7 linked regions of the Homo sapiens genome follow. The protein of the gene in region 1 purifies or fractionates together with the protein of each later gene. This does not show direct contact. Each region holds a gene or a part of one and is shown on either strand. Other genes may lie near its edges. The genes, in order: RRP9, PWP2, DCAF13, NOL6, UTP15, DHX30 and UTRN.

The links.
Region 2: the proteins of RRP9 (region 1) and PWP2 fractionate together in Homo sapiens (co-fractionation; 2 studies listed by BioGRID). This does not show direct contact.
Region 3: the proteins of RRP9 (region 1) and DCAF13 purify together in Homo sapiens (affinity purification with mass spectrometry; 2 studies listed by BioGRID, with this or other methods). This does not show direct contact.
Region 4: the proteins of RRP9 (region 1) and NOL6 fractionate together in Homo sapiens (co-fractionation; one large-scale study listed by BioGRID). This does not show direct contact.
Region 5: the proteins of RRP9 (region 1) and UTP15 purify together in Homo sapiens (affinity purification with mass spectrometry; one large-scale study listed by BioGRID and IntAct). This does not show direct contact.
Region 6: the proteins of RRP9 (region 1) and DHX30 purify together in Homo sapiens (affinity purification with mass spectrometry; one large-scale study listed by BioGRID and IntAct). This does not show direct contact.
Region 7: the proteins of RRP9 (region 1) and UTRN fractionate together in Homo sapiens (co-fractionation; one large-scale study listed by BioGRID). This does not show direct contact.

What each region holds. Positions count from the first base shown.
Region 1 is NC_000003.12:51,935,917-51,938,904, forward strand, and holds part of RRP9 (U3 small nucleolar RNA-interacting protein 2), read right to left. Parts: intron 2,289-2,988; coding exon 2,179-2,288; intron 1,821-2,178; coding exon 1,753-1,820; intron 1,671-1,752; coding exon 1,629-1,670; intron 1,403-1,628; coding exon 1,276-1,402; intron 640-1,275; coding exon 515-639; intron 434-514; coding exon 341-433; intron 1-340. UniProt on the Homo sapiens protein: Component of a nucleolar small nuclear ribonucleoprotein particle (snoRNP) thought to participate in the processing and modification of pre-ribosomal RNA (pre-rRNA).
Region 2 is NC_000021.9:44,124,399-44,127,898, reverse strand, and holds part of PWP2 (periodic tryptophan protein 2 homolog), read right to left. Parts: intron 3,320-3,500; coding exon 3,172-3,319; intron 1,889-3,171; coding exon 1,780-1,888; intron 1,000-1,779; coding exon 934-999; intron 1-933. UniProt on the Homo sapiens protein: Part of the small subunit (SSU) processome, first precursor of the small eukaryotic ribosomal subunit.
Region 3 is NC_000008.11:103,432,386-103,435,885, reverse strand, and holds part of DCAF13 (DDB1- and CUL4-associated factor 13), read right to left. Parts: intron 3,228-3,500; coding exon 3,145-3,227; intron 261-3,144; coding exon 96-260; intron 1-95. UniProt on the Homo sapiens protein: Part of the small subunit (SSU) processome, first precursor of the small eukaryotic ribosomal subunit.
Region 4 is NC_000009.12:33,463,925-33,467,424, forward strand, and holds part of NOL6 (nucleolar protein 6), read right to left. Parts: coding exon 3,470-3,500; intron 3,339-3,469; coding exon 3,190-3,338; intron 3,064-3,189; coding exon 2,988-3,063; intron 2,786-2,987; coding exon 2,645-2,785; intron 2,502-2,644; coding exon 2,384-2,501; intron 2,302-2,383; coding exon 2,147-2,301; intron 1,974-2,146; coding exon 1,810-1,973; intron 1,436-1,809; coding exon 1,283-1,435; intron 1,053-1,282; coding exon 955-1,052; intron 238-954; coding exon 113-237; intron 1-112. UniProt on the Homo sapiens protein: Part of the small subunit (SSU) processome, first precursor of the small eukaryotic ribosomal subunit.
Region 5 is NC_000005.10:73,575,743-73,579,242, forward strand, and holds part of UTP15 (U3 small nucleolar RNA-associated protein 15 homolog), read left to right. Parts: intron 1-1,209; coding exon 1,210-1,294; intron 1,295-2,113; coding exon 2,114-2,263; intron 2,264-3,008; coding exon 3,009-3,110; intron 3,111-3,274; coding exon 3,275-3,408; intron 3,409-3,500. UniProt on the Homo sapiens protein: Ribosome biogenesis factor. Involved in nucleolar processing of pre-18S ribosomal RNA. Required for optimal pre-ribosomal RNA transcription by RNA polymerase I.
Region 6 is NC_000003.12:47,834,138-47,837,637, reverse strand, and holds part of DHX30 (ATP-dependent RNA helicase DHX30), read right to left. Parts: intron 1-3,500.
Region 7 is NC_000006.12:144,291,835-144,295,334, reverse strand, and holds part of UTRN (utrophin), read right to left. Parts: coding exon 3,428-3,500; intron 1-3,427.

The sequences.
Region 1 (2,988 bases):
AGTGGTGCGATCATAGCTCACTGCAGCCTCCATCTCCTGGGCTCAGATGATCCTCCATCTCGGCCTCCCAAAGTGCTAGGATTATAGGCAAGAGCCGCTACATCCCGCCCAGAGGCGGCTTCTCAAGGCCCTCGTTGATTCCTGAGCAAGCTCGGCCCGGTCTCCCCCAGCTCCTCCCCATCCCTTTAGCCCATTTATGTATTTTACAGCACCACTCGCTACCCACTCGCTACCCCAGGATGCAGGTTCCCTGAGGACAGAGACTCCAGAGGCCAGCACTGAGCCTAGAACACTAGCATGTGCCCACTAAAGATCCACTGACATAGACCCAGCTCCTCACCGACACTGCATCCCGGTGTCCTGTGAAGGTGTACAAGTGCTGGCAGCTCTGGGCCTCCCAAATGAGAATGAGCTTGCTGCGGTCACCAGAGGCCTGCAGGGATGAAGACAATGATCACAGGCACCCACCATGCACCAGACCTCCCGCCTGCCCCCAGGGCCAACCTGGCCTTACAAGGTACTTGCCGTCGGAGGAGATGGCCATGCAGAGGACGTGGCTGCTGTGGCCAGGGGGCTTTCCCTCGGCACCCTTCTTGGCTCGAGGAATCACATGCAGCTTCCGTCCACTCTCCACGCTCCCTGCAGTTGGGGGTGGGGGAGAAGCTACTGGGATGGGGGGATAGGGCTGGCTGGCAACCCCCCTCAAGGGGCAGCATGGAAAAAAGAGCCATGGCAAATGTCCCGGACTCGGCCAGAAGACCTGGCTCAGCCACCGTGAGCCTCCGGACAAGCTGCCTCAGTTTCCTCATCTATGAAGAGGGACATTAGTGCCAAACAGCAGCCACAAAGCCCAAAAAAGAGAAGGGATGTAAAAGGGCTTTGGGATTGATGGTGTGAGTTCTTCTGTTACTACAGCGGGTGTAGAAGGAACCGCTGGTCAGCCAGCAACGGATGGGAACCCAGGAGGACCGGGCACTCAATCCCAGGACTGCACAGCCTCAAATGTCTTCTAGTCCAACCACCTACCTGCAGCATTAATTCCCATTAAATCATCATCCTGACTTTGCCCAAAGGTCTCTAGGGACAGGGAGCTCATAAGCCCCACTGCCGGGCAGCAGCTTTCACTGTCACCCAGAGAGCACTCCTAGGGCAGCAAACCTGCCTCCAGAGACTTCCCCACTTCAGGGCTCAGCCTGCCATGACCACTCCCACTCCCCTGACCAGCCCTCCCGGATCCGCCATGGGGGCTCCAGCCCCACCCAGGCACTCACTCACACTTAATGATGCTGCAGTCTTTGGCAGCAGAGAAGATGGCTGAGTCATCGGGGGTGACGACCAAACATGTGATAGAGAGCTGGTGCCCCCGTAAAACGCGAATGTCAGCTGAGGCTGGGGCCTGGATCTGGGCAGACAGGGGCCAGGTCACTGTGGCTAGTGGCATAAAGGCACTACCTTCACCAACCCCACTGCGTAGTGTTGGCCTTTCCCACCCAGGCCAGAAGGAAAACAAGACCCAAGGCTACAACAACCAGATCCTTACCTGACCAGATAGGCCCAAGTGTCCACCATGTTCCAAGTGGGGCCCCCAATTCCCTCCAACCTTATACCAAAATACCATGCCCACTCACCTCTTTTGCCACCAACTTCTGCAGCCTGCCCCTCTGCTCAAGCTGCATGGAGAAGAGATGGATGAGACCCTGGGAGCAGATCAGCTCCACCCCCGTCCTCCCCCAACTCTCCCTCCACACTTACCACATCCTCCTTCAGGCGCCCCGCCACCTGGTCCTCCTCAAATGCACGGGCCTCAGCCTTCTCCTCCTCTGTGCAGGACAGACCAGACCAAGTAAACTGAGGCTGAGACCCCTCTTTCCCTTCCATCCTGTCCCCATCCCACTGCCCCAGGGCTGGATAATGCAGGAAGCTCCAGCTGCCTCAGCAGAGGGGAGGGCAAGCTGGAGGGTTTCCTCCTGCCTTTACTTATCAGATCAGCCCCCTGCGGGCTCCCCAGGAGGCCCATGAGAGCTTCTGGCCACCCCCACAGGGCAGCCAGCACTGACAGCCTGGGCACCCACTGGGAATCCATGTCAGTCACCCATCAAGTGGCTGGGGCTGCAGCGGCGGGCAGCAGACCAGCACAGGCAGAAGCCCTGCCCATGGCTGGCCTGCCCACTGGCTCACCTTGCTGACGGAGCTGCTCTAGGTAGAGCTTGGCCAAGCGCAGCTTCTTTTCCTGTGCAGTTTCCTCCAGCTCCTCCTCCTCCTCCTCCTCAGGCTTCCTTGGAGCTAGGCTGTGGGCAGGAAGGGGCTGGGTCTGAGGGGCTCACCTTGTTCCTCTGACCGCTAGGATCGTGCCTTCTGGATGCTCACCTTGCCATCCAACCTCCCCTATTCCCTGCTAGCCCACATGGTCGGTGACTACACTGCAGAAAACTGAAGGATGTGACTCCCCAAACTAAAAGGCCCCACTCAGTGCCCCACGTAGGGGTGGAAACAGACCCAAATCCCAAAGAGATCACTAAAGCCTCTCAACTCTGGGGGAAAGAGGAGGCTTCCAAGAGAAACCAGGCTTCCAAAAGAAATCAGGTCACATACAAAGAGTCAGGAATCAAAATGTGCAGGCATCTCAACAGCAATACTGAGAACAAGAAGACAAAGAAGCCTCACACACAAAGCTCTGGAGGAATACACTGACCCCTAAAATGCCATGCCCAGTCAAACAATCAACGACGACACTGCCAGGTGTGCAAGGTGCCATGGAATTTTCTCCCTCTTTTTCTTTAGGAAGGATAGAAGCTGTGCTCCCAAACAAGAGGGTAAACTGGGAAAGAGAAAGGCAAGGGATACCGGAAACCAGAGATGCGACACAAGAGAGCAGAAAGGGTGACACTATCCCCAGACATGACGGGGGCAGTCTGGATCAGATCCAAGGACCCACCAGGCAGACACACCAGGACTGTCATCACCACAGCACCATCCTTTACCCTGGGA
Region 2 (3,500 bases), on another chromosome or scaffold:
AAGCTCATTCCTCCCAACATTTTTTTTCTTTTTTTTTTTTTTTAAAGAAACAGTATTAAGTACATTCCCCTGGGACAAAGTGCAAAAATCAGGAGGAACCGGGACGTCTGCCTCTAGCCCCCACCCCACTACTCCCCTGGGAAGGAATGAATGGATCATCCCAGAAGTTACTCTCCCAGGGATGCACATATAAGCAAATATGTACACGCATGCGTCCTCCTCTCTTGACGCCGGGAGCCAGCCAAGTCTTCTGTCTAGCTCAGGCGTCTTCAGCTCCGCAGGCCCTGTGGTCTCTGCTGCACCTACTCAGTGCTGCACGGATCACTAGAGACAGCCAGAAGGATCCGCCAACAAAAAAACGCCCAGTAAAATGTCCCAGTAAAACATCAGTGACCAAAGCAGGTGGCCAGCCAGATTTGGCCCTTGGGCCCGAGGGCACAGACCCCTGGCTCACATGGGCCTCTCTGCCCCTGGCTCTGACACTCAGTCTAGGCTGGAGCACGCTTGCCAATAGCCCTGCTCCTGGCTCCTCTGTGTGGGGACCATGTGCACCGCCAGGCTCCACAGGCCTGTGGCACAGACCCTCCTCCCCACTGCGAGAGGATGGGGGCAGTGCGCAGGAGACGGGCTCTCCGTGATGGCAGAGCCGCCCCCAGGCAGCACGTCCAGGGCACTCGGGGAGCTGCTAGAGCAAGGGCATACCAGGCCTGCCATGTTTCAAAGCTCAGTGCATCTGAGGTTGGCACCGTGACAGCCATCCATCCTCAGGGACAACAGCCATCTTGTGGCCTGCAGGGTTTGCAGGGCCATGTTCTTACCCAGGGGCACAGGGCACAGCCCAGAGCCTGCAGACAGCTCCATGGTGGCCAGCCTTGCTATGGCACAGATGCCCCAGTGCCCACCGGCACCAAAAGCCCATGGCTCAGTGCTCACCAGTGGGAGAGAAGCGGAGTGAGGTCACCCTGATCTCAGGTTTGAAGTGCCGAGAACTCATGTCACCTGGGGAAAAAAGAACCGTTAATGATCACTGGACAGCATATCCAGGCTGCTCTCCCCACGAAGCAAGTCATCCTGCGGTCTCCCGGCTGGCTGGGGGGTGCTGTGGGAGCCCCATCAAGAGCAGCAGCCTCTACTCATTGGGTCCTGCACAAAGCGGAGGCAGAAGCAGCCCTTCCCTCGCTGCAGCTGCGGCAGGTGGGCCCGTGCTGGGGCCGCGGAGGCTGTTCCGGGTGAGCTGCCAAACAGATGGCCCAGCCCATGGGGCAGATGCTCAAAAAAGCCAGCCCGGCCAGCAGACTGTGTGTCCAACCCAGAAAAGGGCCCCAGCCCAGCCCAGGAGTGGGTCTGCTGTGCTCAACACGGTACCCTGGGCCTGCATATGGAAGCACTCAGGGTTTCTGGCTGGCGAGTGTCCCATCAGGATGGTCTACCTGGGACCCAGATCTTCTAGAGCACCTGGCTCTCTGTGCGGCGCACATGGCCTCACGCCAGAATGCTCCGTGTGCTGTGCAGCAGACGGGGCACCCAGTCCCAAGAGCAAATGGACGGGTCCCGCCAGGGCAGGGAGGCCACGTGTAGCAACACATGGGCAGCTTCTCCTGCCCAGGGGCTGACGGCACCAGCACCAACCCACTGGGCCTTTGACACCCCCAGTGTCCAGCAAATGTCACCATGTAGTAACTGTTATTTCCACACACTGCAGCCCCAACCAGGGGCATGAATGCGTGGTCACCCAGGACCGGTGAGTGGTGGGCAGATGCGGGAGGAACCTCTGCTCACCTTTCCTGACGCCTGGCAGTGGTATCGCGACTCCATCCTCCTGCCCAGCATCCTGATCAATTAGTGCCAGGTTGCCAAACTCTGTCATTTTTCTTCGGTTCAAAAATTCCTAGAACAGCAAAAGCAGTGGACGCCTTGCTTCTGATGGCCTGGCCGCCTGGCCCTCGTCTCCTACCCTTGCTCTTTGACCCCAACACCAGACAAGCCTCAGCCCTGTCTAGAACAAGGACGGGGAGAGAGCCCTGCAGTGCCCCAGGGACTCTTCCTGCAGAGCTAGCTGCAGACAGGGTGGGTGTGGAAGCTGTGGAGCAGGGCAGGTGCGGAGGCTGCGGAGGGGGATGGACTGAGGTCTACATGCTGGCATTGCTGCCACCATCACAAAGGCTGGGGCTCACAGCGAGGATGGCCGTCTACTCCCTTGTGAAAATGCCAAGGACACTTTCCCCCAGAAACATTTAGGGGACAGTGGGCTTCTGCCCCGATGGGGCGTGGACAGGTGAACCCAGCAGCCACACCCCTGCTTAGAGGCTACCAGGGCTTCCTCACTCTCATTCTGAGGTCCTGCAGGAGCCAGCATGTGAGTGGGACCTGAGCCGAGGGCTGTGCTGAGGGGGAAGGGCAGGCACCAGTGGGGACAGTGAAGGCAGAGCCTTGTACACAGGACCCCGGGCAGGAAGCCATCGGGCAGGGCCTACCAGCACCCTCTTCGTTCACTCCTTCCCTGACAGATGTCCGTGTCTCCTGAGCCAGCGTGTGCTGGGCACTGCCCCTCACAGCTCCAGCCTCCTAGCAACCAGCCTCGGCAGGGTCATCCACAGCAGTGGTTCCCAACCCCTGGTACTGGCCCATGGTCTGTTAGGAAACAGGCTGCACGGCAGGAGGTGAGTGGTGGGCAGGTGAATGAGTGAAGCTTCATCTGAATTTACAGCCGCTCCCCATTGCTCGCATCACCACCTGAGCTCCGCCTCCTGACAGATCAGTGGCAGCATTAGATTCTCACAGGAGTGCGAACCCTATTGTGAACGACACGTGAGGGATCTAGGTTGCACCCTCCTTCTGAGAATCTAATGCCTGGTGATCTTGATCTGAGGTGAAACAGTTTCATCCCAAAATCAATCCCCCCAACCCTGTCTGTGGAAAAATTGCCTTCCACGAAACCGGTCCCAAATGCCAAAAGGGTTGGGGACCGTGGCTCCACACACAGCTGAGGCAGGTGCTGGCTTCACGGCCGGACTCTGCTGGGGCAGGTGAGGGGCCCGTGCACTTAGATACAGGACAAGCACCACAACTGTGCCCAAGGCCCCATGGAGCCAGGAGTGCAGAACGCAGGAGCCCGACGCATTCCACCTGCATTGGAAGCAACATCCATCCGGCCCCGCGCTGGCGGCTCACCTCCATGGCGTCCAAAGACAGGTTGCAAGAGATCTCGAACCTCTTCATGAGAATCTGCTCACGGACGTGGTAGATGCACACGAACTTGGACATGCCTCCCGCCAGGATGCTGTGGCCGTCTGCAGAGTAGCACAGGGCGGTGAAGGCCCTGGGTGGAGAGGAGACATGGACTTACGGTGGCCACCACGGAAACCTCAGCGTATGGCTCCTAAAAACCAACTTTAGGCCTGCATGGTGGCTCCCGCCTGTTATCTCAGCACTTTGGGAGGCTGAGTTGGGAAGATTGCTTGAGTCCAGGAGTTCAAGACAAGCTTGGACAATATACCAAG
Region 3 (3,500 bases), on another chromosome or scaffold:
CACAATGATGAAATCGCCCAATGACTCATTTCTCAGAATGCATCCCCATTGTTAAGTGACATATGAATATAAATGGCTTACTGGTAGGCACATACCTGCTTCGACTTTTGTCTACAGGAAAGATTCGAATAGATTTATCGAAACTAGCAGACACAAACTCCTTCCCAGTGGGAGAGTAATCCACATCAAGCACTGCAGATACATGATCCATATGGACCATTACAGGAGTGTCCAGTGCACGCATATCAAAAGTATATAAGCTGTAAAAGAATTTTTAAATATTTGACACATATTTCTAGAAAGATGCCATATGCAGTACTAAAAGATACCACTGAAAACAAGAACCATTTGCAAAACAATGCACATCTAAACAAAAAGCTCAATGCTGTACACAAGCAGGTGAGGGATAAGGAAAAATTTCAACAGTTTTTATGATTCCTTAAGACTCCACTTATATATATACCAACACATTTTCCACCCTATAAATCTCATTGTAGAAAATGTGGAAATTTCAAAAAAAGTAGAGTACAAAAATTACCTTGAATTCTACTACCCAGAGGCCAGTTATTTAGTACAGCATAATTTTTTAAAAAACCTTTTTCACCATACTATTTAAATACATACTTTTAATAAAATTGAAATGTTATGTAAAGCTTTATATTCTGATATTTCACGTAGCATATTAATGAGCATTACCCATGTTATTAAACAATCTTTGAAAATATTTTAATGGCTGTATATATAAGTTCAAATAATTTATTTCCCTATATTTTAATAGTTTCCAACATTTTATTATATATAATGCTTATTAAATTCCCAACGTTTGGATTTTTAACATTCAATCTTTAACTGAATGGGACAGGTTCAATTAAATCTGGACAGATTCCTACAAGTAGCATTGTTAAGCTTAAAGGCATGAGCATTTTTAGGCTTGATTTGAGTTGCCAAATCACTGCCAACAAAGTTGCACTAATTTATACTCCTACTGGTGATATGTAAGAGTGAACATGGCCTTTCAAAGGGTGAATCAAAATGAGAAACTATACTTTATGCACAATTGGTAAAAACAATGACTTCATGAGTTTCAAGATTCAAAAATTCTTAATCTAATGGCTAAAAGAATAGTGCTTCAAATGAACCAACATGAACAATGGACAAAAGTAATACAGCAATATTGTGACCAAGTTCCTAATATAAAAATACTTGAAGATGCTAAGATTAGTGAGTAGAAGTCTGAGAAGAGGATATCTACATAGTTTCAAAGTATCTCCCCAAAGATATATAATAATTACAAAAGGAAAAAAAAGTAACTCTTTAGTGGAGAAACCTGGCAGACACCACCCTAACCAAATGATCAAGGTTAACATTACTAGTAGTAAGACATTGACAACTGCTTTACAGTTCCTGCCTAAGAACAGTGGTTTTCAGCTAGGTTTGCTTGGTTCCAGCAAACTGCTTTTTAGTAAGATGCTTTATTTCTACATGGGAAAAATGATAAGAATTCCAATTCTAAGCATATCAATTTGTGTACATGGAAAACCTTTAAATAAACAAAGTTCCACATTATAGGATTCATTAGGGATCATCTATTCTAACCCTCACCTTACAGATGCTGAAACTATGATATAGAGTTAGTTTAAATGACTTGCCCAAGTTTATACAGTAATTACTGGTCGGCCTAGACTTGAACTTAGGTTTCTAATTCAGAATGACTAGAATATCTAAAGGGCAATAAAAGAAAAAAATACTTACAAATATAGAAAAGGGATACAAAAGCAAGATCATTTTCAAAGAGCAATTATGATACTCCAACAGTCACTTATTATAAGGGATATGCTCTTTGTTTCAGGTGGCATATGCAATTCTTTTCAAGGCAAGGAATGAGAAATTCCGAGGACACTCTGAAAAACGGTACCTTGCTAAAATAGCTTATTAGAACATTCTTTAGAAATCTTAATGAGGTTGGTCACAATAATGCTGTATTACTCTTGTCTTTTATTGCCTTTAACTGGAACAATGCCACTTAATTTCAAAACATCAATAAAGGTTAAAAAAAAAAGCTTCAATTACTGTGGTTTGGTATTGCTAGTTAATGAGAGTCTAACTGAGCTTCTTTTATTTTTTTAAGACACCAGGGTCTTGTTCTGTTGGCCAGGCTGGAGTGCAGTGGCCCAATTACAACTCACTGTAACCTCAAACTCCTGGACTAAACCTCTTTTTAGCAGAAAGTCATAAAAGATGCTTTTAGTTGGTACCACTAAAACATCATATAATAAATCCTTTTATGAGCTAACACTACTACTTTTTTGCTTCCAAATCTACATAGTGGAACATAAAACAATACAAAGATCTAAAGTTCAATCCACCAACAAACTTCTGCCTTCTTAAAAAAAACATGTATTAAGAATCTATCAAAGGCATAGCGCTATAATAAATGCTTTGGGAAAAAAAAAGATAAGATACTCTTTCCTCCCTGGGAGACTAATCTCCCCGCTTTAATATCTTAAAAAGGGGATAACATGCATGTCCCACCTACCTCATATGGATACTGAAAAGATAACTATAATTTTTCTTCCATCTGACTGAACAGTGATAGCTGATAACATGACCACATGAGCATCAGCTACCTGATACTCACCGCAATACAAACATTGCAGGCAGATATTTTCATTTCCATTAAAACATGTATGGTTCAGTCATTATTTATAAGACCTACATCAAACATCAGCCAACTTCTTCTGTAAAGGGCCAAATGTTAAACATTTTCAGGCAAGTGGGCCATAAGGTCTCCGCTGCAACTATTCAACTCAGGCATTATAGCACAAAAGCAGCCATATCCAATATCTAAATAAGTAAGTGGGTGTGGCCATATTCCAATAAAACTTTATAAAAAACAGGCAACAGAAAGGATTTGGTCCACGAGTTGTTTACTGTCCCTGGTCTACATCATTCTAAATACTGACGAAATAAATACTTTTCTAAGAAGTTCTTCTCCAATTTGGAAAACTTTTTAAAGCTAAACAGATGACAGTTTTCAAACTTTATAGGTATACCTACCTAGTGGTATATATTTTATTAGTACGACTTATACAATTAAGCCATTCATGATAGAAATACACAAGTTTTTAAAAGAGGGAAACTTACTTATAATCTTCATTTGCTGCTGTAAAAATGAAAGCTTCCATAGGGTTCCAACAGATTGTATTTGTTCTCATATCTAAGATAACCTGAGAAAGGAAGAATGGATGAATTTCCCACTTCCTTTCCTTTTCTTTTCCCCACTGATTTAAGCAAATATTTCATAAACACCTATTATGTGTAAAGTACTCAGCTCAGTGCAATGGGAAGAGAAATCAATCAGTAATTGCTTCTTAAATACACAGGCAGAATAGTAAATATAAAAATAGAAATGCTTAACTCCCAGTCTCCTAATCTCAAACAACTTACAGTTTAGTCAGAAAAATGTGACACATAATAAAAGTTAAAATATAAACAATAAA
Region 4 (3,500 bases), on another chromosome or scaffold:
GGGGTACAGACACATCAGACTGGAACTGAAGTGGGTCTCTCCCAGGTCAGGCTGGGCCTGCTTTTTCCTTGGGAAGAAAACCACACATTAGGGGGCAGGTATGGGGTTGAACCTGGGCTGAGGGTCCATCCTGTGTCCACACAGAGTTTTTGCGGTCTTGGGGGGTAACAATGACCATGACGGGGAGCTGTGCCCGAGCTGCCAGGAAGCCACTGCGGATCTCCACCTGCTCCTCCACTAGAGACAAGAATGGGTCCTGGGTCAGCCTGCTCCTCCCTGTAAGACACCCTCTACTCCCCCAGGTCCTCCTACGGTGCCCCCAACGGCTGCTCATCACAGGTATTTTTCAACACTCCCCCCCACCAAGTGGCAAAGGTGACGAAAGGGACATCGCATTTGCCTCAACTGGGTGGGGCATTAATCGCCCAACCTCAGCCCAGAGGCAAAATTTTCCACTGCTTGGCACCCCCAGTCTGGTTTCCGGGCCTGCACAAGCTGAGTCTTGCCCCTGGCCCCCTCCCACCATGGGCTTCCACACACCTGGGGAATTAGGAACCTGACACCCTGCTCTCTGCAGAGACCGAGTGCCTCACGTTACAACCAGAAATCACCACTCCCACCCCCACCAAGAGGTCTGAGTATCTGTGCTACACTTCCTAGCTCCGTGCCCTAATACTTCTTACGTGGTATTCAGGATCCCCCTTCTATTCTCCTCTTCCTTCCACAGCCCCCCGCCAGGTAGCTTGCTTACCACCCTATCATTCTGTCTCTGACAATTAAGAGCAAACCATGTCATAATGGTCAGGCTGTTCACCTGGACCTCTTCTTCATGTCAGGCTTAGACATCTGGGGCTGGGGAGGCACAGAGAAAACCTAACACTGCCAGGGAAACCCTTGCCTGCAATCCATAAAGAGCTGTTCTTCCAGCAGTCTGACCCCTGTTCTACCACTTACCAGTGAGCTCATTATTGAGGTTGACAAAGAGGGGGTTGTTCTTCCAATCAAACGTTGATACCAAGAAAAGGAATCGAAGGAAGCCAACCTGGGGGGAACTAAAGGGCTGGAGTAAGCAAAGAATCCAGGGCCCAGCCACATATCCCCAGGCTTCTCTCAGGCTATGGAGCTCAGACCCCCTGGTGTGGATTGGCAGGGCAGGGCATCTTAGAACCCCTTCTGCCACTTGCTCAACCACCCATTCCCATGTAGACTTAGGGTGCAGCACGAAGGATGATGGCTGGCCGCAAGGAAACTTCTCAGCTGGGGAAAAAGTGGAGGGAATCACCTCGGAGGGGTGAAGGGCTCAGGGTGCAGGAAAAGGGCAGCGGCCACCAGATCCAGGCTCTCATCAGCGAAACCCTCACCAAGAAGCTGGGCACGCACCCACCGCTTGGCCAGCCGTGCCACACCAGAGAAGGCTGGGTGCTGCTGCTGCAGTCTGCAGAGAGAAGGGGAGTGTCAGCGAGACTCAGGGCCCCACTGCCACTGTTCATCCAGCCCCTACCCAAGGCCAGCCTCAGTGATAATAGGTTACATATGTAATCTCATATTCTCTTAAGAAATGCACCAAGAAGTTGACCCTAGTGTTATTTCCATTTTACAGATGACAAATATAGGGACCAAGGAGGAAAATCTGACCATAGGGTCACAGTCAGTAAGTGGCAGAGCCAGGATTCCAGAACCTGCCTGACTCCAGAACTCATACCCCTAACTATGATACCATCTGGCCCCTGGAGAGACAGGTGGCTAGGTGAGGAGAATGGGGGCAGGAGGGGGCCTACAGACAGGAAGAAGCTGTGTCAGTGGCCTTACCCGTGCAGGGCACTGGTGAGCAGTGGCAACTGCCTTGTGTCTCTCTCAAGGCGGAGGGAGGCAGCTGTGTCCCTCAGCGAGATCATCCCCTCTGGGCTCTGCACCTCCTTCAGGATCTGGGGCTCCCGCTGATAGGCCACGCGAATCCGAAACACAAATCCATCCTGTTGGAAGAAGGTATGGAAAGAGAAGGATGTGTCAGCCCAGAACCCCGGGAGTACTCTGTGGCCTACAGCCCTATTACCCAGCGTGGTACCCACAGGGGTGTCTTCTTCCACGCCCTGACATCCCTGGTGCCCCCCTTCCCTGGGGACATATCTGCCTGCACCAGCCTAACCTTAAGGACATCCGTGTGCGTGGCAGTGGCACGGCACTGCAGACCATGCTGTTGTGTCAACAGCTCTGCCAGGCGCAGCTGGAAGGCAGCTCGGACCCGCTGCACGGCCTCAGCGTCCTGTGGCCACTGGCCACTGCCCTCCAGGTGACAAACCACTGAGGAAGAAGAGTCAGAGGTCTCATACTGTGGCCTGGAGCTGGAACTATCCCTCCCACTCCCTCCCAAGGGCCCTCTTACCGGTCATGGGCTCCACGTAGGCCGGACAGGGCTTATCGAGCCGGGGCAGCAGTGAGGACCGCTCCCGCAGAGTCTCATAGAAGGAGAAGGCTGGACGGACTGGAGTTGGTGGGAACACCTGTGGAAGAAGAGGGGCTGAGGAATGGGCCTAGGACTGGGAGGGAGTGCCCAGAGTCAGGAGTTGGAAGTGGGGAATACTGGGTGACTGGAGCAGAGGTGGGGCCACTAAGCAGAAAGGTCACCTGCACCGTTGCACCTCACCTCTGTGTAGCGCAGCACTGGGTGAGCTCCCTGAACAGCAGACACGGTCAGTGGGAGACCCTCTAGCCCCCACAGTAGGCGACTGAGGTCGTCGTAGCAACGTACCGCCGCTACCAGGGCCTCCTCACCTGTGCTGGAGGTCTGAGAGGGAGAAGACGGTCAGGAGGCTGGACCCTACAGAAGGCCAGCTTCACCTGGATTCTGCCCCAGCTCAGGCTGCAGCAGAGCCAGCACCGCCGCCTGCTGGACATGCCAGGAAGTGCAAGCTGGCCAAGGCTGAGAGGACTCTCTCCCCGCAGATTGATTACTCTACAATCACTAGCCTTGACCCCAAGACCCTTACCTCTTTCAGGCCTTGGATAAGTGCATCCAGGGGGCCCCCCACATAGTGGACACAGGTTTCTGGGATGTCAGCATGGCTGAAAAAGAGGCAGAGACACAGTGAGAAAATTTGGGGCTATGTTCTCGCTCAACTGCCTGGGCCAGACCCCTGAAAAGGCTCCCCAGCCCACACTGCCTTCTGGAATCCAGATGCCAACACTCACAGTGCCAAGAGGTGGGTGACCACCTGGTGGGGAATAAGGCGCTTCTGGGACATAGAGGCTGCCTCCCAGACCACAGCTTCCCGAATGGCTCCGTCCTGGAAACGCCGAAGCTCCGAGCGGGATCCCCAGAACTGGCGGAATTTAGCAGCCTGAGGAGGCAAGGGTGGTAGTAGAGCTGGGGAAGGAAGGGCTCTGTGGACCCTCCCCAACAAGCTTCAGTCCAGGTGCCATGAGGACGAGCCACCCCATTCCTTCCAGTGTACATGCTGGGGTCCCCCACCTCAGGCTGGTCTGCCTCTGGACCCAGCTCA
Region 5 (3,500 bases), on another chromosome or scaffold:
ATGGAGTTTCACTCTTGTTGCCCAGGCTGGAGTGCAATGGCGCGGTCTCGGCTCACCGCACCTTCTGCCTCCTGGGTTCATGTGATTCTCCTGCTTCAGCTCCCAAGTAGCCGAGATTACAGGCATGTGCCACCATGCCCGGCTGATTTTGTATTTTTAGTAGAGACAGGGTTTCTCCATGTTGGTCAGGCTGCTCTTTAACTCCCGACCTCAGGTGATCTGCCCACCTCGGCCTCCAAAAGTGCTGGGATTACTACAGGTGTGAGCCACCGCACCCGGCTAATACCTTTTCTTTACTCCCAAGTTTGATCTTCAGATGACAGTGGCTCATGGTCTGTCCTTCTGTTTTTTTTTTTTCCTTTTTTTCTTTTTAAATTTTTGAAACAGAGTCTTACTCTGTGGCCCAGGCTGGAGGGCAGTGGCACGATTTCGGCTCACTGCAACCTCTGCCTCCCAGGTTGAAGCAATTCTCATGCCTCAGCCTCCTGAGTAGCTGGGATTACAGGTGTGTGTCACCACACCTGGCTAGTTTTTATTATTTTTGGTAGACATCGGGTTATGCCGTGTTGGCCAGGCTGGTCTTGAACTCCTGGCCTCAAGTGATCTGCCCACCTTGGCCTCCCGAAGTGCTGGGATTACAGACCTGAGCCACCACACCCGGCCCTTCTATTTTTTTTATAAGTGGCTAGTCAAAGTTTTTATACGGATGTTATAGTTAGGGCTGGTATACAGCTCTTTTTTTTTTTTTTTAGACAGAGCTTTGCTCTTGTCGCCCAGGCTGGAGTGCAGTGGCACAATCTTGGCTCACTGCAGCCTCCACCTCCCAGGTTCAAGCAATTCTCCTGCCTCAGCTTCCCAAGTAGCTGGGATTACAGGCATGTGCCACCACGCCCAGCTATTTTGTATTTTTAGTAGAGATGGAGTTTCACCATGTTGGTCAGGCTGGTCTCGAACTCCTGACCTCAGGTGATTCACCCACCTTGGCCTCCCAAAGTGCTTGAATTACAGGTGTGAGCCACCGTGTCCGGCCTACAGCTCATTTTTTAAGGGATTCAGTGATGAATTAGTTTGTAATTAACATTACTAATCTTTGTTTTTCTTCACTGTTGTACAGATTTTAATGTTTGTATTTTGTTTTCAGAAAATAGAAATTTGCATTTTATACTCGTTTTCAAGGTGATTTTTGACAAAGCTTTTCCTTTTTATTAGGAAGGTGAAAGTATACAGCACAACTTCCTACAAAGTAGTCCACAGTTTTGATTATGCAGCTTCAATTTTGAGTCTTGCCCTTGCAGTAAGTACCTTTACCTATTTTTAAGTCTGTCACTAACCCTGCCTGTTAAATGAAACTAAAATGGAACTTTGGGCTTTATTTTTAGATTTGAGTAACTTTTCTTGCCACATCAGATATTTGAGTTAAGACAATTGCTGGAATATGTAACTCGTCCTATTGACTCAGCATGAATTCAGATTTAGGTCCCACTCACTGTAGAACTTCAAACTAAATACAGTGCTCTAGGCATTGTTAACATTAAACGCAGGACCTGGGAAGCTGGTAAATCTCTCTTCAACTCATTTAACTCAAGAGTATTATAGTACACTAGAAAGGCAGATTAGCTCTCTGAGCAGAAAAAAAGATGTGGGGAGAAGGGGACAACAAAATGAAATATCTCCTTTTCTTTGTTACTGCTCTTTCTGAAATGTATACTGTCAAGTTTTATGAGAAGCCACATTTGGGCAGGAAGGCATTTGACTATATTATATAGAAATCTGATTTGGGAGAGGAAAAGCTTATTAAAAATATTTTTGGGGGGCAAGATCATAAAAGTCTTGCTACTGTGTAATCTTTGATGCCGTTAACTATGTATTATACAAACTTTGCCAGTGATATTTTACAAGTATAAGTTCTGTCAATGTAGTTGTATCCTAAGGAAAAAATGATTTCGCTTTAACGTCTTGCACCAATCATCGTTAGGCAGACTATGTGTATTTGAATGGAACTGTTGGTGAATGTATGGACAAGCAGCAAACACATGGTAAATGTGTTTTGAAGTAAAAGTACTATAAATTACGAGTTAAGAATAGACTAACTTATTTTTCTAATTGTTATTAGCATGAAGATGAGACAATAGTTGTAGGAATGACCAATGGAATACTGAGTGTTAAACATCGGAAATCTGAAGCAAAGAAGGAATCACTTCCCAGAAGAAGAAGGCCTGCATATCGAACCTTTATTAAAGGAAAAAATTACATGAAGCAACGGGTATTTGTGCATTTCTCATATTTGTTTAAAGGGTGAAATTTGTTAGAGTAGCCAGCTTCATCCCTGCACATTACTGGAAAGCGTAGTTCACATGGCACTTTATTTTGCTTTTCTCTACATCAGAATTATTTCTAGATTGCTAGATTGGGGACATTATTGATGAGTAATGGGGAACAAGGACTACTTTATGTAATACTCTGCATCATAACATAATGTTATAATGCTTTACTGCATTCAAAATAATGTCTTTCACATACTACCTGATTTGATCTAAATCCCAAGAAGTAGTAGAACCAATCATGTCCCTGTTTGGCACCTGAGAAGACTGAGCGACAAATAATTTGTGATTGATTCAGGATTTCATTACTGGTATCCAGAGTTGTTGAGACTAGATCTCATTATCTCTGATTGTTGTTTGATTTCTCTTTCTACTGTACCACACTGCCTGCCACATAAAGAGAATTGAAATGAGTAATTTTTACCTAGAATTAAGGCAATGGTGCATGTTGTAAGTTAAAATTATAAGAGAGTAAGAACATGTTGATGTAGCAAGTTACTCCTTTTTTTTTTTCTTTTTTTGACTCTGATTAGCAGGATGCATTTTTATTTAATCTACATTATGGGCATATGAACATTATTTGTGACATAGTTCAGAGATACCACTTCATTATGAAAAAGTTTATATTAAATGTATATTTACACAGATGCTGATTTTCCTTCTCTATAAATGTACTTTTCATTGCAGGATGACATTTTGATTAACAGGCCAGCAAAGAAGCACCTAGAATTGTATGACAGGGATCTGAAACATTTTCGGATCTCTAAGGCACTCGATAGAGTTCTTGATGTGAGTGAGCATTTTTTAAAAAATCATGTTATTACTTACCCTGCATATTACCATGACTTGGAACTGTGAAGATAAATATTATTCAAACTTGATAATTTAGTGCAAGACAGTGATTTTTTTTGTGCTGTTTTGTCTACTCATGTTGACTTTGAAAATTTTTCTAGCCCACTTGTACAATAAAGACACCCGAGATTACGGTGTCCATCATAAAGGAGTTAAATCGAAGAGGAGTCCTTGCAAATGCGCTTGCAGGTCGGGATGAGAAGGAAATCAGTCATGTTCTTAATTTTTTGATAAGGTATGTTTTTTGTCTGTGAAACACTTACATTTTGCATCTGAAATCCTTTATCACCAAATAAAAGACATTTAGTTTGATCTTTGTAGAGAACT
Region 6 (3,500 bases), 4.1 Mb from region 1:
AGGCGTACGCCACCAGGCCCGGCTAATTTTTGTATTTTTAGTAGAGATGGGGTTTCACCATGTCGGCCAGGCTGCTCTCGAGCTCCTGACCTTGTGATCCACCCGCCTCAGCCTCCCAAAGTGCTAGGATTACAGGCCCTCATGCCTGGCCCTCTAATACCGTTGAAGAAACCTCCTCCACAGCTGCCGCTGGTATTCTCTTCCATCCAGTGTCCCTGTCTCTGGTCTTGCCAAAAACTACTGCTGTCAGTGATTTTCCCTAAAAGCAAACTTGGCTGTGTCATTCTATCAATTACCACTAGTCAGAAGCCCTGGCAGCCACAGGATCAAATCATTCTGCCCCTGTGACAGTGAAGGCCCTGGAGTTCTAGCTCCTCCCTGCCCGTCTACCGCATGGCCCAGCAGGCAGACCCACATTCATTCTCATTCCCCATAGCCACGCATATTCACCCGGGCTCTAAGCCACATTGGCCTGAGTCTGGAGTGCCTTGCTCCAGCCCTCGGCCCTGGCAAGGACCATTCTTCAAGAATAAGCCTCTTCTATTTAGGAGGCTGGGGTGCATTTATGTCCTCCCGTGGACACCTTCTTCTTGGCTGTGGCTGCTGACTCAGTCCCCTTTGTGCTGCCAGCACGTCTCACCAAGCCTATGGGCAATGCAGAAAAAGACATCTGATTTGGGGGGAAAGGGAAACGCTGAAGAACTGGGAGTACAGCTATTAGAGAATAAAAGGCTGAGTTCTAGAATAAAAAACAACTCCTATAACCACAACAAGATCTCATCTCACACCCATTAGGATCGCTATGATCAAAAAAACAAAAACAACTAGGCTGGGCACGGTGGCTCACACCTGTAATCCCAGCACTTTGGGAGGCAGGCAGATCGCGAGGTCAGGAGTTCAAGACCAGTCTGGCCAATATGGTGAAACCCTGTCTCTACTAAAAATACAAAACTTAGCTGGGCGTGGTGGTGCGCACCTGTAGTCCCAGCTACTCGGGAGGCTGAGGCAGGAGAATCGCTTAAACCCAGGACGTGAACGTTGCAGTGAGCCGAGATTGCGCCACTGCACTCTAGCCTGGGCAACAGAGCAAGACACCATCTCAAAACAAAACAAAACAAAACAAAACTATACACATAGATGGGGAAGAGAAAAAGAGATGGAGAAAAATGTGATAATGACCTGCTTCAGACAGGCTGGGATGGCCGGGCACAGTAGCTCATGTCTGTAATCCCAACACTTTGGGAGGCGGAGGCAGAGGCAGGCGGATCACCTAAGGTCAGGAGACTTTGAGACCAGCCTGGCCAACATGGTGGAACCTCATCTCTACTAGAAATACAAAAATTGGCCAGGCGTGGTGGCAGGCACCTGTAATCCCAGCTATGAGGGAGGCTGAGGCAGGAGAATCACTTAAATCCAGGAGGCAGACAGAGGTTACAGTGAGCCAAGATCACGCCATTGCACCATTGCACTCTAGCCTGGGCGAAAGAGAAAGACTCCATCTCAAAAAACAAAAGTCTGAGTTTAAAGTGCCTTCAAACATCCAGCCAGCCAGTCAGCCAGGCAGAGAAGGATTTCTCAGCTTCAGCATAATTGCTATTTTGAGCAGGGTAATTCTTTGCTATAGGGGGCTGTCCTGTGTACTGTAAGCTGGGAAGAAGCATTCCTGGCCTTGATCTTACAGCTGCCAGTAGCACTCCTCCACCTGTGTCCAACGAAAATCCCTACAGACATTGCCAAATGGCCCCTGGCCACTCTCAGCACTTTTTTTCAACATAGTACTAAAAGTACTAGAAAGTGCAGGCAGACAAGAAAAAAAGGCATCCAAACTGGAAAGAAAGAAGTAAAATTATCCCTGCTTACAAATGACATATCTTATATATAGAAAACCCAAAAGAGAGCCAGGCACAGTGGCTCATGCCTATAATCCCAGAACTTTGGGAGGCTGAGGCGGGTGGACCACCTGAGGTCAGGAGTTTGAGACCAGCCTAGCCAACATGGTGAAACCCCATCTCTACTAAAAGTACAAAAAAATTGGCCGGGCGCAGTGGCTTACACCTGTAATCCCAGAACTTTGGGAGGCTGAGGCGGGTGGACCACCTGAGGTCAGGAGTTCGAGACCAGCCTAGCCAACATGGTGAAACCCCATCTGTACTAAAAGTACAAAAAAATTGGCCGGGCACAGTGGCTCACACCTGTAATCCCAGCACTATGGGAAGCCGAGGCAGGCAGATCACCTGAGGTCAGGAGTTCGAGACCAGCCTGACCAACATGGAGAAACCCCATCTCTAGTAAAAATACAAAATTCCAGGCGTGGTGGCACATGCCTGTAATCCCAGCTACTCGGGAGGCTGAGACAGAACTGCTTGAACCCAGGAGACGGAGGTTGCAGTGAGTTGAGATTGCGCCACTGCACTCCAGCCTGGGCAATAAGAGCGAACCTCCATGTCAAAAAAAAAAAAAAAAAAAATTAGCCAGGCATGATGGCACATGCCTGTAATCCCAGGCACTCGGGAGGCTGAGGCAGGAGAATTGCTTGAACCCAGGAGGCAGAGGCTGCAGTAAGCCGAGATCGCGCTGCTGCACTCTAGCCTGGGCAACAGAGCAAGACTCCATCTCAAAAAATAAAAAATAAAATAAAAAATAAAGAAGTTCCTCAAAAAATTAAAAATAAAACTACCATATGGTCCAGCAATATCTGCTCTGGGTATATACCCAAAGGGAATGAAATCATCAGCTCATAGGGATGTCTGCACTCCCATGTTAACTGCAGCATTATTCACAACAGTCAAGATACGGAAACAACCTAAGCATCTGTCAAAGGATGAATGGTACATATACACAACAGGATATTATTCAGCCTTTAAAGAAGAGGAGATCTGGCCAGGTGCAGTGGCTCATGCCTGTAATCCCAGCACTTTGGGAGGCTGAGACAGGTGGATTGCTTGAGCTCAGGAGTTCAAGACCAGTCTGGGCAACACTGGAAGACCCCATCTCTACAAAATTAGCCAGGTGTGGTGGCGCACACCTGCAGTCTCAGTTACTCCAGAGGTTGAGGTGGGAGGATCTCTTGAGCCCTGGAGGTGGAGTCTGCAGTGAGCCATGATCGCACCACTGCATTCCAGCCTAGGCCACAGAGCAAGACCCTGTCTCAAAATAAATAAATAAAAGTAAAAACATGGATAAACCTGGAAGACATTATGCTAAGTAAACCAGACACAAAGAAAATACCACATGGGCCAGGAGTAGTGGCTCACACCTGTAATCCCAGCACTTCAAGAGGCCAAGGCGGGCAGATCACTTCAGGTCAGGAGTTCAAGACCAGCCTGGCCACCATGGCGAAACCCCATCTCTACAAAAAATACAAAAATTAGCTGGGTGTGGTGGCACATGCCCGTAGTCCCAGCTACTCGGGAGGCTGAGACATGAGAATTGCTTGGACCTAGGAGGCGGAGGTTGCAGTGAGCCAAGATCACGCCACTGCACTCTAGCCTGGGCAACAG
Region 7 (3,500 bases), on another chromosome or scaffold:
CAACAGAAAAGGATGACTTATTCTGTGTTACTAGCTTTAATGTATGTTAATTATTGAATGAAATAGCAGTGAGGATATTCTTCGATTGTATATGCATCCCAAACCATTTTATTATTTCATGTTTAAAATGTTCCAAGCAGTACTTTCTGCATCACACACTCTACTGGCAATAAATTTCACTTTTTAAAAATTCTTAGTCTTGGCCTATTGTTTCAAAATATTTACTAACTTGTTGAACTTTCTAAAGCCTACTAATTAAGGCTGTTAATAATACAGTACTTGATGATGAACTTGGCATATGTGCTTTTAAGTTAGAGAAAGACAGGTCTACTTTTACCCAACACCAAATCCTTGGTCATTATAGATCAAATTCTTTCCAGTTCCTTTCTAACACTCACCCAAACCCAAGGCAAGTATACTACAACCATAAATAAATACATGGCTTTGTATTTATGAAACTACTTCATTACGTACCCTTGACAACTTCCTATTTCTGTTTAGATGGTAGAAATGGCTTTAAAATTATAAAATTTAAAAAATTATAATATTCAAAATGGCATGAAACAAAGTAATACTAAGTGAGGACAATAAAAATAATCACAATAACTTAACATAAAATGCATAGACATTTTTATTATGCCAATTTAATTATGCCAGCCTTTTGGATTGTCCAAACTCGAGGATTTGGAGAGCAGAAACCACACTCTCCGTCCCCCCACTTTCATCCAATTTCCCCCCAAAAAAGAAACCTGGAAGAGCAGATGAGGATCAAAATTTTCCTAAAGGAAAGTATTCCCTTTTAAAAAATGGAAAAGCAACCAATTTGGCATACAGCATGTAGACAGAGGATCTTTAAAATACATATATGATATGTAGACAATTCCTATGACTTAATCTAAACTAAAAATCTCTTAAAATATGTAAGTTTTAGAGTACCATGAAATATTACCTCTGTATAGTAAGCATTTGCCTTAAAAGAATCAAAAAAAGTCCCTTAGAGGAAGCCAGATTGGGACTAATGGGTCCATTCAAATCCAAATTTATCTACTGGCTTTTGCAACATAATTCAGCCAAAAGAATGTGATTCATATCTGAGCTATGTAACAACTAAATTTTCAGTGTGTTTTGAAGTAGATGCCACCACAAAAAAAGTAATAGTCATAACCTTGGCATCTAAACACTCTAAGCAATTTGATAATCTTTAAAAATATAAGAACTCAGTAATGTGGGTTCATTGAAGAACTTTAGAAAATATAAATCAGCAAAAAAAAAAGTAATAATCTCAAATGCCAAGATGACCACTATTAACATTTATTGTATACTTCACTAAATTTTTAAAAAACATTTTTCATATAAATGACTTCATATAATACATACTTGTTTACTTACTATATCAAGAACACATTTCTATATTCATACACACACACACACACACACACATCACACACATCTGTATCACTTTTTATGAATGCTTAATCTTCTACTTTATGGATATACCCTAATTTAGTTACCTCTACTGAGATCATGTATGATCTGTTCAGATGTGCTAGAGTAAAGAAACAGAATAATAGGTTTAAACAACTATTTCCTAAAGCTATTTGACCATAACATCCTTTTGTGAATTACACATTAACAATCCTAGAACTTTTGATCTTTTCGAAATACTTTGGGAAATAATGATCTAACCAATTCCTAATATTAGATTTTCATGGTGTTTACAATGTTTTCTATTATAAATGATACTGTGATCAATTTCTTGAGTGTACCTTTTTATGTATTGCCTAGGGAAAAACTCTAGAAACAGAATTACTCAGTTAATTGATATGCATGTGTTAAAAACATGTTATCATTTTTGCCAAATTGTTCTCCAGCAATATTTTAGGTTCATCAGCCTTTTTAAAAGATAATTTTAAATTAAAATAGTTTGGGAGTTTATATGTTCATTATATATACACGGTATTTCTGAAATTAGATAATTACTCTTTTATGGACACGGCTAAAGTACAAGTTATAAATATCAAAGGTCTTACTAGAATGAAGGCTGACTCAGAAAACTATTTAGGAATATACCTCCTCACAATTTATAGAAAATGACTAGTATGGAGACATTAAATCGTCTCTCTTCCATTTTCCTCTGTTATATTTACATATGTCTGAATATGTATTCCGTACTCCTAAGATGATATTAATAATCCCTTACATTTTTGTAGTACCTTATACCACTAAAACATTTAAAACAAAAAGAATTTTACAGGAAGAGAACATCCTCAAAGCATATTTTAAAACAAGATATTAAGCTATACCTTCAAAAGACCCGTCAAGCTACACAATAGTTGCTACATATTTACAGCCAAATCTGTAATAACTAAAATCTTTATCAATCAACCAACACCGGTATCATGGAGGAAAATGTGTATTTTAAGACAGTTAATTTAGATCTTATTTTCACTGTGTATTTCTACAGTTTCACATAATAAGAAACAAGCTCCTAACAGAACATAAAGATGGTTCACACAGCAAAAACAGGCTTTGGGTTCCTTTTTTGTCTTTAAAGTGACACTGGATGTAATTTTATACCTCAAAGTAACTTTTCAAAGTTACTTAAGTATAGTGTTCACACTCAGGGTGGAGTTCTGTGTAATTTTCAAGGCTGAGAAGTGTTCTGCCTGTTCAAAAATATCTCCCCTTTGAGTTTGTCTCAGAATCATATTTGAAGCTTTTTAAAAATACAGAAATTTTTATTCAATGGGTCTGGAATGGAGCCAATGCATCTGCGTTTTTTAAAACTCCCCAGTTGATTCATCTGTACAGCCAGAGTCAAAAAGCACTCGGTTATATAAAAAGATTGGAGGAGGGGGTGGTATCCTGAGGACCCCAATTTAACTGTTCGTGTGAAAACCATGAATCTGTCTGAGTCTGGTTTATTAGATTACCTAGGTGAAAATTTTACCTTGAGAAGGCTCATAAGATATTTCAAGGTAGGACACCTGTTGGCCTATCAATGGCTATGAACAGGGATGGGGGTGAGGATATATGGTAATGAAATCAAACTGTGAAAGATCTTTCCTGCCAGAAACTGTGGCACTTCCTACATTAAGCATATAATCCCTTCAATTTCCAGAAAATAGAAAGAGAAATGTTCGGTCGTATTTTATTTTAATGGAGTAGTCTTCCAAATGAACAACCTTTAGCTACAAGCAGCAGTTTCACTAAGCACAAAATTGGGTTGAGAAAGGATAGGACACTCAGAGATATTATACCTTTTACATATACCTTTTACAAAATTATAGTCATTTGTCAGAATTCAGTTTCTTAAAAGAACTTCACCTCCAAGAAGTTCTTGCAAGAACAATGCAAATCAATCCAAGAAACATAGGTTTTCTAAATACATAAAAATCCATAGCTTTCTTGAGCTTCCTTTACCTACCAGATCTGGACTTAATGATATCACTGAATTCGTTCTGCCCATTGTCAGGACTGGCTTCATGTTCTCCATACTT